Linked DNA regions of Homo sapiens: region 2 is linked to region 1. Evidence: fine-mapped expression QTL. A gene starts in region 1. The other region holds a variant in brackets. All regions are shown on one strand. Distances are between the middles of the regions. Region 1 holds the start of TMF1 (TATA element modulatory factor 1). Region 2 has its middle 35 kb from the start of TAFA4.

Evidence for each region. PIP is the estimated chance that this variant, and not a neighbour inherited with it, causes the effect.
Region 2: its variant is fine-mapped to the expression of TMF1 in lung (TOPMed, PIP 0.99).

What each region holds. Positions count from the first base shown.
Region 1 is chr3:69,048,242-69,056,580 of GRCh38, reverse strand. It overlaps TMF1 (TATA element modulatory factor 1), which reads left to right and starts at 4,248. Exons shown (of 17, transcript NM_007114.3): 1 at 4,248-4,636; 2 at 8,019-8,339. The coding sequence starts at 4,495. It overlaps UBA3 (ubiquitin like modifier activating enzyme 3), which reads left to right. Exons shown (of 18, transcript NM_003968.4): 15 at 298-398; 16 at 518-581; 17 at 676-730; 18 at 1,056-1,851. The coding sequence ends at 1,144. It overlaps MIR3136 (microRNA 3136), which reads left to right and starts at 7,546; the gene lies at 7,546-7,623. RefSeq lists an enhancer at 4,187-4,656.
Region 2 is chr3:68,963,516-68,971,854 of GRCh38, reverse strand. No RefSeq gene overlaps it. Among named protein-coding and RNA genes, the nearest start is that of TAFA4, 35 kb to the right of the region's middle. The variant T/A (reference allele first, on the strand shown) is at 4,436.

The sequences.
Region 1 (8,339 bases):
TGCATATTTTGATTTTTAAATATTATTGGTTAGAAATTTGAACAAAGTCACCCATACATTTTCTAACTTCCAGAACTCTACTTATTATATATCTTTTGCTTTATAGCCTGAAATAACTCTATAGCGAAGTAATTTACAAGAAATGGTCTATTATGAAAAGCAGGCTTTAAAGCATAAAAATTTTTTTATAGGAAATATGCATGATTATAAAACAACCTGATTTTTATTTTATTGTTCATAAAAGAGACTAATATTGGTGCATGTGCTGCTGTAATTTGTTGTGTATTATGTGTGTAGGAAAACTGCCCAGCTTGTAGCCAGCTTCCTCAAAATATTCAGTTTTCTCCATCAGCTAAACTACAGGAGGTTTTGGATTATCTAACCAATAGTGCTTCTCTGTAAGTATTGTAGATTTTTGTTATGTTGTAAAAATCATTTTTGTGATTTTTGAAACCTTAAAAAAATTATCTTTTGATAAAAATTATGTTTGATACTTCTCTCTCATCATAATCTTTAGGCAAATGAAATCTCCAGCCATCACAGCCACCCTAGAGGGAAAAAATAGAACACTTTACTTACAGGTTATCAATGTGTATTTTAAATTTTTTTCAGAAAATTATATCAAGTTTTATTTTACTTTAATGTGTCTTACATTAAAGTAATTTTGTTTTCTAGTCGGTAACCTCTATTGAAGAACGAACAAGGCCAAATCTCTCCAAAACATTGAAAGGTATTTTACATAAGGGTATTTACTAATCATTTTCTTTCTTTTCTCTCTTTTTGGTGAAAGTAATCAGTGCTTGTTCTAGATTTCCTCTTAATGCCTTGTATATGGTCAGGTAATAATTACTTACAACTTTAGACATATTAATAGAATTAATTGCTCTTTTAGTAGAATATTTTAAAATCTCTAAGAAATCAAATATTACTTTGATTAAAGAGGATTGGATTTTGATGTTTTTCTAGACCGTAATACTCTGTAGTTTGTTTACATGTGTATTATCCTTTCTGTTGAGTTTTTTTTGCTTGTATTAATAATATTTTTTCTGTTTTAGAATTGGGGCTTGTTGATGGACAAGAACTGGCGGTTGCTGATGTCACCACCCCACAGACTGTACTATTCAAACTTCATTTTACTTCTTAAGGAAAATCTCCACATAATAGAAAACTCATGGAAATAATATACTTTGTGGATGCTAAGAAGTTGAATCGATGTCATTTTTAGCAATAGTGTTGCCACGATTTGTCTTTTTTTATATAATGAACCACTCTTTTTTAACTTTGTAACCTTCCCTTGAAGACAGAATTTTGGTGTTGGTGCTTGTAAGCATTTTCATTAATAATATGAGAAATGATACCTGGAGAGAGAGATTATGAGCAAATGTATTGCTTCTTTTAGAGGAGGAAGCATACAACCTCTTTTGTGTGAATTTTGTTATTATGGTCAAAGAATGCATTCCTAAGTTTTCATTTGAGTACCCAAATACACAAAAGGTGTCCCTTTAAGGAAAATAAAGAATTAAGTTTTAAATAACATTACATTTTACAATCTGACATCTGGAGTATATTGAACATAGGCTATTTCTTGATATAACACTCATTTAATTGTGGCCATCCAAATGAATATTATTGCAGAATTTATCTTGTTCATAATGATTTGTAAATGGTGTTATAGCTGAATACCTGTGCATGAAAATGGGCAATATTTTCATCTGTTTACTTGTAGTGCCATAGAGGCCAATATGCACAATATTAACTAATGCCAAGACATGGCTGTTTAAAAAATTTAATGTTCAAACAGTTATCACTGATGCTTTTGCACTATTTATTAATAAAATCATATATTGTGTACTTCTTTCACTGAAGTTTTTAAAAGTACATTAAGGGTAATCAGTAGTTCCATGGTAATATAGGAATAATTTTTAAATGTGTAGCAGAGTTATATCAAATTTTTATTGCACTTAATACTTTTGCTACAGCAATTTCTATAGTAAAAATTTACTGGTTTAATTTAACTTTCTGTATCAATATAATTTTTTTTTTTTTTTTTTTTGCGACAGAGTTTCGCTCTTGTTGCCCAGGCTGGAGTGCGATGATGCAACCTCAGCTCACTGCAACCTCTGCCTCCCCGGTTCAGGCAATTCTCCTGCCTCAGCCTCCGGAGTAACTGGGATTACAGGCGCCTGCCACCATGCACGGCTAATTTTTTGTATTTTTAGTAGGGACGGGGTTTCACCACGTTGGCCAGGCTGGTCTCAAACTCCTGACCTCAGGTGATCCACCCCCCCCCGCCCCCCTCGGCTTCCCAAAGTGCTGGGATTACAGGCATGAGCCACCATGCCTGACCATGTTTTTGTTTCTTTTAAGTGAATAAAACTTCAAACAAAATTAAGTACAAATACTAAAAAAGTAGGTGCTAGTATTTTAATATGAGAACATGTATGTGTTCTCATTCTTTGTTTTTGACTTAGATATGGCAGTTTTCTGTTCAAATGTTTTTTGGTTACTTATGTGTCACTGAGTTAAGTTTTCAGTAATCTTTCTAGCTACATATTGACAAATAAGTTTTATTATAAAACCATACGGAATAAATTTATAAGCTCTACCTGAAAAGTTACAGGTGTAGCTTACAATTTTGAAAGTGAAGGAACTAAAATTTAGCACCATATAGGTGCTATAATAATTCTCAAAGTAGCATTGTAAGAAGGTGACTCTATCTGAGAGCTGAATAAATAGTTTTAGATGGTTTAGGTAGGTCATTTCACCAAAGCTGTACAATTAGAAGTCTTGGAACTGTAACTGTACAGCTAATTTCAACCCGAATCTGCCCCAAATCTCCTCTGCAGACTACTTAGCTGTTTGAAAGTACTTGAGTTACTTGGTACTACTTGTGTACATGACTAAATTGTTAGTTTTAACATGCAAGTTTTTACTGTAGTTAGATAAAATTATTGGAAGATGATTATAACTTCTTAAGGGGTTCAATCTGATTTTTTAAAAGAAAAATAATTCTTTTTTGCAGAGTTCCTTGCAGTGGGGTAAAATATTCAAATATGGGAGGCAGGCATATAAGGTAAATAATCACAGCAGGGAGGGTGTAATAGGATGAGTGATAGGGGTCTGTGGCAAACTGGAGTGAGTGAAAATTATTTGGTGACCACTCTGGCTGACTATTCCCATGCTTGGTATTCATATTTTTCAAAAGCAGCTGGAAATCTAGATTTTTGAATGAAATCTGGCTTTTAGTTAGGATTTTGTCTTTAACTTGGGCCCAAACCAAATATAGCTGCAGACTGGATTAGGAAGGCCACCAATTTAAGGTATTTTCCCATGTCCAAATGTTCGAAGAGAATGCACACAGAAAAGGTTATGTTTTAAGTAATATGCACAGTGCACATTGTTAGGATAACAGCTTTAGTGCTTCCTAGGTGTCTTAGTCCATTTGGACTGCTGTAACAAATTGCCATAAACTGGGTGGCTTATAAGCAGTAGCAATTTGTTTCTTAACAGTTCTAGAGGCTGAGAAGTCCAAGATAAGGAGCCGGCAGATTTGGTGTCTGGTGAGGGCTGCTATTCTGGCTTAGAGTTGGTGCCTTCTTGCCGTGAGCTCCCTTGGGCCTCTCTTATAAGGGCACTAACCCCATTTATGAGGGCTCCATCATCATCTAATCATCTCCTAAAGGCTCCCCTTAATACTGTCCCATTGGAGATTAGGTTTCAACATAGGAATTTGTGCAGGGGACACCGACAGACCACAGTATTAGGGGTATTTTGACTGCAGCAATGAGTTTACTACTATTTTGAGAGAGAGGTTGTGCTTTATGCACCATGTGTTCCACGAGTTGGACACAGTGTTCATACGTGATCCTGTCTTTTAGGCAAGCCCAAACAAGTGTTTCTCCTTACAATACCAAGTTAATACAGAGCTTATTAAATATTTGAGACAAAGGGCTAAGAGAAGTGTGAGGCCCAATTTCCCTTTGCAATTATTGCTGGCAAGGTGCAAGCTTTTAGCACGTGAACTATTTTCCTGGAAAGCACACACACGAAAACTTGAATATTCCTTCCGGGGAAATCGACCTCTATCGGTAGCCATAGCTTCCCCTTCGCTAAGAACTGCTGTAAGCACGAAATCGACATCAATAGAAACCCTTCCGCGTTCCTCGGTAACTAACGGCAACCCTGCGCTCCCGGATGTGACGTCAACGTTCTTCTGTTCTTCCGTCTGTCGACCGAACTCTGGGCTCGTAGATTTGGTTGCTGTGTACGTGGAAGAAGCAAGCGCATGCGCACATGGGCCCCCTTCGTCTCAGCTGTGCGGGAACGGCCGAGGGTAACATCCCGGGCTCGCGGGAGGCTGTCGGGGTAATGGCCACACGCTGACAGAACCAGCCGAGTGGAAAAGGGGAGCGAAGCCGTTCCTCTGCACCCTTCCCCAGGCCTGAGGCCTTCCCGCTTGGTGCTGCCGCCGCCACTGCCGGCTGAGGAGGGGCGATGAGTTGGTTCAACGCCTCCCAGCTCTCCAGCTTCGCTAAGCAGGCCCTGTCCCAGGCCCAGAAGTCTATTGACAGGGTTCTGGACATCCAGGAAGAGGAGCCGAGCATCTGGGCCGAGACCATTCCGTATGGAGAGCCGGGTAAGAGAGAGAGGAGCGGGGTTCCTGGCTCCCGGAGGCTGCTGTTCTCTTGATGCAGGCAGGTTAAGTGGTGTAGAGAGGGGTCCTTCCTTGCTGAGAGAGTTTTCAGGAAGTAATTTCTCCCCGGCCCGTTCCCTAATGCTGCTTCAGCCTCCAAGTCGGTCTTTGCTGTTTTCCTGAGGGAAAACCCAGATCCAGGTTCCCCCTTGTCTTTCTTTGGTCCTGGGTGCGAGGCTTGTGGACTTGGATGACAGGGGACTTGGTTGGTTGGTCTTGCCCTCAAGCTCTCCCTCGACGCAGCTTCCAAGCACAACCTTCCCGAACCTGAACCTCGAATTGCTTCGCGTCTCGGGCACTGTTGGGATCCAAGGTCTGAAGTACGTAAATCATCAGGGAAGGGAAGAACAATCGCTAACAGTCAGTGAACATTTCGCGCTTGGTAGCGCGTAATGTGGTTTTATGTTGTTGTTGAGACGGAGTCTCACTCCGTCGCCCAGGCTGGAGTGCAGTGGCGCGATCTCGGCTCACTGCAACCTCCGCCTCCCAGGTTCTAGCGATTCTCCTTCCCCAGCCTCCCTAGTAGCTGGGATTACAGGCGCCCACCACCACGCCCGGCAACTTTTTGTATTTTTAGTAGGGACGGGGTTTCACTATGTTGGCCAGGCTGGTGGAACTCCTGACTTAAGGCGATCCACCCACCTCGGCCTCCTAAAGTGCTGGGATTACAGGCACGAGCCTGTAATGTGCTTTTTTATGGCCTTCTCATCTTCAGAACAACTCCCAGAGAGAGCTTGGTTTATATCCGTGTTTTACATAAGAGGAAAATGAGGCCCAGAATGGCCAAGTAACTTGCTCTAGGTCACACGGCGGAGGAGGATTAGAATGTGCCGGAGGTATTAGCCGGAAAATGTGTGACCCAAGATTTCTGGATGGTATCACATTTTATTTCTGAATAGCCAAGTCTCTCTTTGCAGTTTCATTGAGCTTAATCTTTCAGGGATCTTCATTCAGTTGCTTTTGACTCTTAAGTCTAAGGAACAGTTCAGCATTTGATGTGTGGGGTAAAGATTTGCTGGTGTTGGGGGATGTGAACCTTTGTGTGAAAAAGGATAAGAGATGTACTTGACTACTCCTTTCTGGTTTCTGTTCTTAATTTTACATCATTGAAAAGTCAGGACCTAAATTTGAGGTACCTCAGTTTAAGATATTTTGGTCCATGTGTGTATGTGATGATCCTCTTTACTTTTTACAAGATGTCATATAACCTTGCTGGAGTAACTCTGTTTTTTCATATGTGCCCCAGTTAATTAGAATTACTAAACTTTAGATAAGATAGAATATAGGTTTTACATATAAGGATATTTGTTTTCGGAAAATGCCCATAGTCTTCAGAATGGTATAATTTAGATGGATACCAAATAACCCTGGGATTATATAAAGTATTCTCCAAGAGGCAAAATTAATTCCTGTCATCTTTTGAATGTATTTAAATTAATCAGACATAATCTTGGTTGTTCATTTGCATATTTAATTTTGATTTTCTCTGGTTTGGATATTGTGCAAATGAATGTGTAGAACTATGCCTCCAAACTGAAGTTTTCTACATACTTTTCATCCTAACTGCCTTTGAAGTCATACATATATTTACATATATATATATTTGTTTTTTTGTTTTTTTTTTTTTTGAGACACAGTCTCACTCTGTCATCCAGGCTGGAGTGCAGTGGTGCCATCTCTGTTCACTGCAGATTCTGTCTCCTGAGCTCAAGTGATTCTCGTGCCTCAACCTCCCGAGTAGCTGGGATTGCAGGTTTGCGTCACCACACCTGCCTAATTTTTGTAATTTTAGTAGAGACAGGGTTTTACCATGTTGGCCAGGCTGGTCTTGAACTCCTGACCTCAGGTGGTCCGCCCGCCTCGGCCTCCCAAAGTGCTGAGATTACAAGCGTGAGCCACTGCGCCTGGCCTGAAGTCATATTAAAGGATAGATTCTACTATAAGGCTTGATAGTTTTTAGAAGCTTTTAGTTACTTGTGCTCTCTCCACCAACTTCTAATTGTGAATATTTTGTGAATATTTTGTTCAGCCACATTTTAATTTGAAAAAGAAAACATTTTTAAAGAAATGCTTTAAATACTTTAACGAATATACCATTTTTAAGATCCTGATTATGCCATTTTTAAAAATCAGGATTTTAGTAGTAGCTATTTGTATGACTGATATGATAATTAACTTTTTCCCCAAGAAAACAGTCATTTTCTTTGTAGCGCTTTTTTAAAAACCCTAGTGTCAACCACCTCTATGTCAAAGAGCAATAGTTCTTAAAAAAACACACATTTCTGAAATTTATAATGACCTTGTAATTTCTGACATAATTTAGAATTTGAGAACAAAACTTCCTCTTAGAGTGGGCTTGGAGAGTGGGATTTAGAGAATCAGCCTGTGATTAAGTGGATGAAAATGAATTTGTTCTCTAGAACTTACCATTCCCATCAGTTTAATATGATCTTCGGGAAAGAACATTTGTCACCATTATCTTGGTTTGAGGCTTTTGTTGTTTTGTTTGTTTTCGAGACAGGTTCTCGATCTGTCACCCAGGCTGAAGTGCAGTGGTTTGATCATGGCTCACTGCAGCTTCCACCTCCTGGGCTCAGATGATCTTCCCACCTCAGCCTCCTGAGTAGCTGGGACCACATATGTGGGCCACCAGGCCCAGCTAATTAAAAAAATTTTTTTGTAGGGACAGGGGTCTCACTATGTTGCCCAGGCTTGTCTTGAACTCCTGGACTCAAATGACTCTTCTAGTGTTGGGATTATAGGTGTGAACCTCCATACCCACTGAGTTCAGTTTTTGAGTGTTGCCCTTTGTCTAGCTCATAACTATATTACTGATATTACAAGTAAAAATTAATATGAAACTGACTGAATAGGTAGGGTCATTTTTCTGTGACTGCACATGGCCCAACCTATTCAGTTAGTTCCATATTAGTTTATTTCATATTGATAAGTAAAGCGTGTTATTATGAGATGAATCATAGGTATCTTGGACTTACTGTGGGTTATAAAACATATACTGTTACTTCCTTAATTTGTTGTGGGGAGGAATAACATACTCGCATCTGGTAGTCCAGGCCAGGCCCAGTCTTTTGTCTGTGCTCCTCCTTCCTCTCAGGTGGACCCACACCAGTTTTCTTCCGTAAGTCCCTGTATTAACTTGGAAACTACTTAATGATGTAGTAAGCAAGGAGTTTAGCAGGTGCAAATTACAGGTATTTCATAGGGTATTTTTTCTAAATTTATATTTATACTGATTTATAATGATGATTGAAATATTAATGTAACATATATGTGTTCTTTTTTAATATTTACTTTTTTGTTAAAGGAATAAGTTCCCCTGTCAGTGGAGGATGGGATACTTCAACCTGGGGGTTGAAATCAAACACTGAACCTCAGAGTCCACCAATAGCCTCTCCTAAAGCAATCACAAAGCCAGTTCGGAGGACTGTGGTCGATGAATCTGAAAATTTCTTCAGTGCCTTTCTCTCGCCAACTGATGTCCAGACCATTCAGAAGAGTCCAGTGGTATCAAAACCTCCAGCAAAATCACAACGACCAGAAGAAGAAGTGAAAAGCAGCTTACATGAATCCTTGCACATTGGCCAGTCAAGAACTCCTGAAACAACTGAATCACAAGTAAAAGACT
Region 2 (8,339 bases), 85 kb after region 1:
TTGGGAACTGCTGTTCTGGAGACACTGATGAAGCTGGTGGCAATAGACAGTTCATGAGGTCTAAGCCAGAATTTGCCAAAGTATCTTCCACTGAGTGTCCATAAGATGTTCCACAAAAAAATGGGTTACAGCTGGGCGTGGTGGCTCATGCCTGTAATCCCAGCACTTTAGGAGGCTGAGGCAGGCTGATCGCGAGGTCAAGAAATCGAGACCATCCTGGCCAACATGGTGAAACCCCGTCTCTACTAAAAGTACAAAAATTAGCTGGGCATAGTGGCATGCACCTGTAGTCCCAACCACTTGGGAGGCTGAGGCAGGAAAATCGCTTGAACTTGGGAGGCAGAGGTTGCAGTGAGCTGAGATCCCGCCACTGCACTGCAGCCTGGCAACAGAGCGAGACTCGGTCTCTAAATATATAAATAGTTATTTGATAAATGCTTCCTTAAGTCAATTTAAAGCAAGTTTATTGCAGGACTTCTCAGCACCTTTGATGTATGTGCATTGTGAATCTCTAAACAGGAAGATGTCATATGCACTGTATGCAAGTTTATTTGACCATGGAATCTTTTCTTCAAGAGGTATGAGGATTGGTGTTGCAAGAATCCCACTCCAGGCAGGCTACCCTAAGCATTTGCCATGGCTAAAGCCGCCTTCTGGGGAAAGGGGGACCAGGCAGTGCCTTCACCATGCAGTTGTTCTGGTCAGTTGCATCTTATTTGTTGAGTTAAATCAACTGTGATACCTGGTTCTTGTTAATTGGACCAGGAATCAACAGCTGAGCCAAAGTCTATTCAATCAAGAGGCTGCGAGATAAACGGTAAATAAATGACCCATCCAGAGCCATTCTGCTGGGGACATTTGAAGGTGAGGTGCAAAGAGAATGCCAAAGTTCCTGGGACAAAGACACCAGATCTGAGCTACTGGGGTTCCTCCTCTATGGGGTACAATTATGAGTCACTTTCCAGTTATCCATGAAGCTGCTAGTACATTTAGGTTATGGATTGGATTAGCTCATCCTTACAATCTGAAAGAACTTCACTGCTACAGCAATGCCAACACTGCAGGTATTATTCTCCCCATACTACACCATGGAGATGCAAGCAAACTAAGGTTGAGGGATTTGGACCTTTGTTGTCTTACTCCAAGTTGAATGCCAGCCAGTTACATCACTGTGTTGTTGCCTCTCAAGCTGAGGTCATTCAATCAGCAGGACAAGAGTAGGCAAAAAGTAATCGTAGTTTCCAGAGAAATCTGGAGAGTAAATGGCAAGGACACAATTCAGCGGAAGTGTCTCCTGTCTTGGGTGGAAATCCAAGTCGGGCACAGTGTTAAGTAAAGGTGCCAGCAAAATCAGGCCAGTTTGATATAAGGCCATTGGATGAGGAATCAGCAGGTAGGGGATGAAGTTTAAGGTGACTGTTGCAAGTCCCAGAAGAAAACCCGAAGTTAAAGTGGTATAGCCATGTGACTAGTGAAGCAGGTGACTAGTGAAATGAGAGTAGTACTAGGGACACATTGAACAGACCTAAGGTGAGGCAGGGAAAGGCCAGGATTAACATTTGAAAGCCAGCTAAAATAAGGCAGGATGAGGAGGAAAATGGAAAAACTAAGGAAACAAGTAAACATCATCCATAGCAACCCTTCAAACCCTTAAGGCACGTGGAAAATGGGGAGAAAAGAAAGCAAGTACTTATTCACAGCAAGGGCAATTCTACATTGATGGGAAAATGTAAATCCTCTAGAAAAATATCTTTGTCTACATATCGTTTTTCAAATATTCAAGTGATATTCAGCAATGTGCTGGGAGAGAGTTTACCCATGAGGCATTTAGAAGTGTTTATGGTTCACCTTGCAGAAATGAGACTGAGAGGTTTTCTTCCAGTTGCTACAACTGCTTTTCTGTAAAATTAGAAGTAAGATGTGATGATGGAGCATCTCATAGTACATTATTACCAGATTCTGAGATGGAATTTTGGTTTTCCCTCTCAGGTATCTCTATGCAAATAAATTGCCTTCAGAAATCGCTTTGTTATTCTATCATATTTACTTTTTACTAGATTATATGTTACTGGAGAGTCTTGCTCTTGATATTCAGATAGCAGTCTATTGGAAAGAAGAGTTTTATGGTGGAAGCTACGTGGTGCAAGCAATAAATCTAGAGGACAAGGGGATAAAAGTCATACCCATAGAAAGGTGCCCATTCTTTGATGGTTTTGCTTTTAAAGTAGTGAAAAGGGCCATAGCTGGGAAATATGCTCTCCTTCTCTTTGTCTTTCTTCTCCTTCTTGTTCCTTTCTTCCTCCTCCTTCTGTTTAATTCTAATAGCACTTAAAAGTCTGTGGTGTAAAAGTCTGCTTTCCTGTTGGAACTTGATAGCACCCATCAGCCAGGAGTCCTGCAGAAATGACTTGACTAGTTGCTTCTTAGGTAACAGCATCTTGTCCAAGTGAAGACCCCTGTGGTAAGACATCGTAGCAGAATTTGGATTTACTCTGTTGGGATCTGTGCCTGACCCTTGGAAGAGAACCCAAGTTAGCCTGAAGATAACACCCGCTTCACCCATTAAGACATCTTGACATCCACCGAGAGTCTTCCATAAGGTAGTGAGTGATGTTTGGCAAGTGCATGCAGATGACATCTTGACAGAAATTAGAGGGGTTTTGCAGACTCATGAGGAGTGGCAGTGTGGGAGACGGGTGAAAGTATGGGCTCTGGCCTCAAATGCACCCCGTGCTGCTACTTTTTACATGTACACCTAAGGCAAACCACTTAAGCTCACTGAGCCTCAGCTTTCTCATCTGTAAATGGAGGGTATTAAGGGACCCAACCTCATCAGGTGGTTGTGAGGAGCTATTTGTTCATTCCAGGTATGAGGCACTCTGCTGAGAACACAATGGTAAGGAATAGGGGAGACTGATATTAGTCAGGTAATCACACAAGTGAGAGTATGTAAGGATAACGGGAGAGAAGTACCCTGAAGGGAAAGAATATGTTGCTAAAAGGAAAACCTTAGCCACATTAAATTTAACAGAGTTTAATTGAGCAAAGGACATTCGGGAATCAGGCAGTCTCCGGAGCCAGAGTAGGCTCAGAGAGACTCCAGTGCAGCCACATGGTGGAAGATTTATGGACAGAAAAAGGAAAGTGATAGACAGAAAGCCAAAGTGAGGTAAAGAAACAGCCAGATTAGTTACAGCCTGGTGTTTGTCTTGTTTTAACATGGTTTGAACAGTTGGCCCCCTTCGATTGCCCCTGTGATTGGCACAAGAGTAGGCTACAATTTGTTTACACCTCCATCATAGGATACAGTTTCCCATCTACGTAGAAACCTTTAGGCTGAACTTTAAATATGTGAGAAGGCAGCTTTAGACTAAACTTTTTTTTTGAGACAGGGTTTCCCTGTGTCACCCAGGCTGGAGTACAGTGGCACAATCACTGCTCACTGAAGCCTCTACCTCCTGGGCTTATGTGATCTCCCATCTCAGTCTCCCAAGTAGCTGGTACTACAGGCATGTGCCACCAAGCCCGGCTAATTTATTTTCTGTTATTGGTGGAGATGTGGTTTCACCATGTCGCCCAGGCTGGTCTTGAACTTCTGGACTCAAGCCATCTGCCTGCCTCGACCTCCCAAAGTGCTGGGATTACAGGTGTGAGTCATCATGCCCAGTCTAGGCTAAACTCAACAATGTTCCTGACCAGGAGAAACGCTTTAGACTGAGGGGTAGTGTAGTCAGGGGAGCTTCTTCCCAGGGAAATGTAAGAAAGCACAATTAATGCCTGGCATCTGGCAAGGCCTCGATAAATAGTAAGGCAGCAGGGAGAGGAGGAAGAGCAGGAAGAAGATGCAGACATATAGGAAGCCAAGGCCATGTGCCCATGTACCCCAGAGAAACCTTTGTGTAGGTGCCAAACTTTAATCTGAGATGCCATGATGCCAATGGCCACTGAGGTCTACAACCCCAGAATGTTTGGCCCTGTAATGGGTTGACAGTCTGAGAGGTAGACCCTCAGTGAGAAGGGTGAGAGCAGATGGCAAATGATGCCCCCCTGGGAAAACTGGCAGATGCTCCAGGGCTGCAGGACTGGAACTTTTGCCTTGTGGTAGTTTTATCAACATCATCTGAGAACTTCACTAACTAAAAAGGCTCTGTCTGCCAACCTTCCTCCCCAGGCCTCAGCATTCTCAGCTTTTCAGTGAGGAGTTTGGACACGTTATCTGAGCTCTAACTATCTTGTCTAGACTTCTGCTCATCAAGTCTATGATGAAATGACAAATTAAATGTGGATATATACAAATATATGCACACATGTGAACTCATGTTATATAAAATAGCCACTTCGTGGCTCTGATGGAAAAATGGTTCTTCTGTGCCTTATCCTAAAGTCTTTATATAAAATGCATGTGTTCTTAACCCCATGTTAGTGGGGGGATTAT[T/A]CATCTACTTGTATTTAGAGATGGGCTGAGACAGAAAGAAATACTCACATAATCCAGTGTTTTCAATGATAGTAGGAAAATGTCTACCAAGAGAGGGGAAACGAAAACTGCCCCCTTTTTTTTTTTGAAATAACAAAATTAAGAAAATTAATTGCTGTTTAGTGGAGGGGGAGGGGAACTCCTGAAGCAGGTGTTATTACTATAATACTCACTACTTGGGTGAATGTGGTAGAGAAAGCCCCTACCTGGAAACCAGAGAAGGCCCTATCTGGAAACCAGAGTCTTTTTTTTTTTTTTTTGTAATTATATTTTAAGTTCTAGGGTACATGTGGACAACGTGCGGGTTTTTTACATAGGTATACATGTGCCATGTTGGTTTGCTGCACCCATTAACTCGTCATTTACATTAGGTATTTCTCCTAATGCTATCCCTTCCTCTGCCCCCCACCCCATGACAGGCCCCAGTGTGTGATGTTCCCCACCCTGGGTCCCAGTGTTCTCATTGTTCAATTTCCATCTATAAGTGAGAACATGCGGTGTTTGGTTTTCTGTCCTTGTGATACTTTGCTCAGAATGATGGTTTCCAGCTGTGTCCATGTCCCTGCAAAGGACATGAACTCATCCTTTTTTATGGCTGCATAGTATTCCATAGTGTATATGTGCCACATTTTCTTAATCCAGTCTATCATTGATGGACATTTGGGTTAGTTCCAAGTCTTTGCTATTGTGAATAGTGCCACAATAAACATACGTGTGCATGTGTCTTTATAGCAGCATGATTTATAGTCCTTTGGGTATATACCCAGTAATGGGATGGCTGGGTCAAATGGGATTTCTAGTTCTAGATCCCTGAGGAATCGCCACACTGACTTCCACAATGGTTGCACTGGTTTACACTCCCACCAACAGTGTAAAAGCATTCCCATTTCTCCATATCCTCTCCAGCATCTGTTGTTTCCTGACTTTTTAATGATCGCCATTCTAACTGGTGTGAGATGGTATCTCATTGTGGTTTTGATTTGCATTTCTCTGATGATCAGTGATGATTAGCATTTTTTCATGTGTCTGTTGGCTGCATAAATGTCTTTTTTTGAGAAGTGTCTGTTCACATCCTTTGCCCACTTTTTGATGGGGTTGTTTGATTTTTTCTTGTACATTTGTTTAAGTTCTTTTTAGATTCTGGATATTAGCCCTTTGTCAGATGGGTAGATTGCAAAAATTTTCTCCCATTCTGTAGGTTGCGTGTTCACTCTGATGGTAGTTACTTTTGCTGTGCAGAAGCTTTTTAGTTTAATTAGATCCCATTTGTCTATTTTGGCTTTTGTTGCCATTGCTTTTGGTGTTTTAGTTATGAAGTCCTTGCCTATGCCTGTGTCCTGAATGGTATTGCCTAGAGGAAACCAGAGTCTTAATGAAAGTCCAAGACTGCCTTTTAAATGCAGGAAAAAAAGTTATTTACACAAATGGTAAGTGCCTAATGCATTAATGCCTAGCTCTGTGGATTGTGACTTCTGTCAGTATTAAGCATTTTGTAGCTCCAGTTCTTAATGTTACTAGGGGCTCTGGACAAGTTTGCTCAGTGGGTCTTACAGCCTTCAGGAGACATTCCCTTGGCTACAGTGGTTCAGATTTGGCCTACCCTGGAGATGCAGAGAAGGATGATCATGCTTTAGGAGCAGAGTATAACTTGGGTATGTGTATATGACCCATTCTAAGGGAAATGGCCCCATGGCTTTGATATGAGTACCTTCTTTTTGTCTTTCTTATCTCTGAGCCAGGGGAGCTGGGCCTCTGAGTTGAGTGCAGTAGCAGCAAATAGCTTCCAAGCCAGAAAAAAATCAAACCCCAAACCTTTCCCAAGTAAAAAGGCAGAATTCTTGGATGGTGTTTTGTTGCAATTATGTCGAAATGTGAATGTGGAATTGTATGTTTTCTTGTTTTTCTTTTTTAAGATGGGGTCTCATTCTGTTGCCCAGGCTGGAGTGCAGTGGCATGATCTTGGCTCACTGCAACCTCTGCCTCCTGGGCTGAAGCCATTCTTCCACCTCACCAGCTGGGAATACAACAGGCACACGCCACCATGTGCAGCTAATTTTTTGTATTTTTGGTAGAGACGGGATTTCACCACAGTCCAGGCCAGTCTTGAACTCCTGAGCTCAAGTGATCCACCTGCTTTGGCCTCCCAAAGCGTTGGGATTATAGGCATGAGCCACCAGCGCCCAGTTGGAATGATACATTTTTAATTATGAGGTGTTATCACATGCACCACAGTTGTGTCTGACCTTAATGATACCTCTGACCTTGCCTCCATTCTTCCCTCCATCCCTAAACCACCATCCTCCTCTTCAGCAGTCCCTGAGCCTGCCCTCATCCTCCTAGTTTTACACACCATGGAAAGAACATTGATGTTATTCATCACCCCTGAAAAATGCTGCATGGAGCCCAAGAGTTACGTGCGATGGTGATGTCAATGGGAACAATTCATTATTCTATCAAGCACTTGGCATGTCAGACAATGAAAAAGTATGTGCTTTAGAACTGACAGCTCAAAGTAGTCTTTTCAGCTATCAGCATGCCAAGATCTTGATGGTATAATGAATTATTCTTTAAACCTATCATTTCATCCTATCAATTTAGTCCTATAGTCTTTTTTTGGGGGGAGGAAGAGGGGGGAAACTAAATTATAGAACTTATCTCAACTAGCAAGCAAAATAACTTTGCACCTGGGAAGAAAAGACTAGAGGTGTGAGAGGTAGAATTAGAAAGAATATTCCTCAGGGATGACATTGAGGTAAATATATATTACAATTCACAGAAGTATGGGAAAAGTCCCTGATTTTTATTTGACTCTTGGGCGTAAAACATAGTTTATTCTCATTGACCACCCGTAGAATTTTCATCCTCATTTTCCATAACAATGCACTGGAAAAATCAGAGACAATTTATTATTCTGTTTACATTGTTATGCAAGCTTGCTGAGCAATATAGTTCCTGATTATTTAGGACATGCAGGTGTTTAGAGTAGTCTTGGATTGGACTTTGAGTTTGGTTGGAAGATCAATTTTTCCCAGTTAATCTCCATATGTAGATAACTTTTCCCACACTTGATGTATGGTTTCCTTACTCTCATGTGGCTAATTAATTCTGTTCATTCTCAAATCTGACCTCTTCAAAGATCTGCACCCATCTCTTCTCCCCTGAGTGTTTTGAGACCAGAGTGAGAAATTCCACAGCTTGCTGGCTTTATGGGGAGTGTTTAGCACGTTGGCATGCATTTCGGGTGACTTCTGAACACGGCACAAAGCATGTTTAGGTTTCAGCTGGTTGCTTTCATCCGAAAATGTCAGCTTTATTTCTAGGAACAGCAGCTGCCACATTTTTTTTTCCCAGAATATCTCTGCTGAAATGCTTGATGTAAATGGTTATTTTCATTCCTGTTAAATAATACCTTGTTGCTACAGCAATGGTCATTTTAAATACCATCACAAAATAACAGCGACACCAATTTGTCCTCAGGATTGGGTCCTAATTGTTCATCCATTGTTTGAAAATAGAGAACTGCCTCATTAATCCACTGCAGAATATTAAGCGTTTCATTAAAATATTGCCCAGAAAGGAGAGTTACTTCAAATCCCCTTCATGTGTCCTTCATAGCCAGCAATATTATCTATTCTGCATTTTTAACTATCAACCTGAAGAAAAATCTGGGCATCCATGACCTTTTAATTTGTGCTTCAAAGAAAACATTTCTTAATGTTATGTAATAAATCAATCATTACTTGCTTAATAATCTTAATGCATGTCTTTGAAGTCAGCAATCCACAAGAGATGCTGGGATTTTTTAGAAATTGGCAACTCTCTGGTCATTTGATGTAAACTGTGTTTCATTGATTTGCTGTGAAAC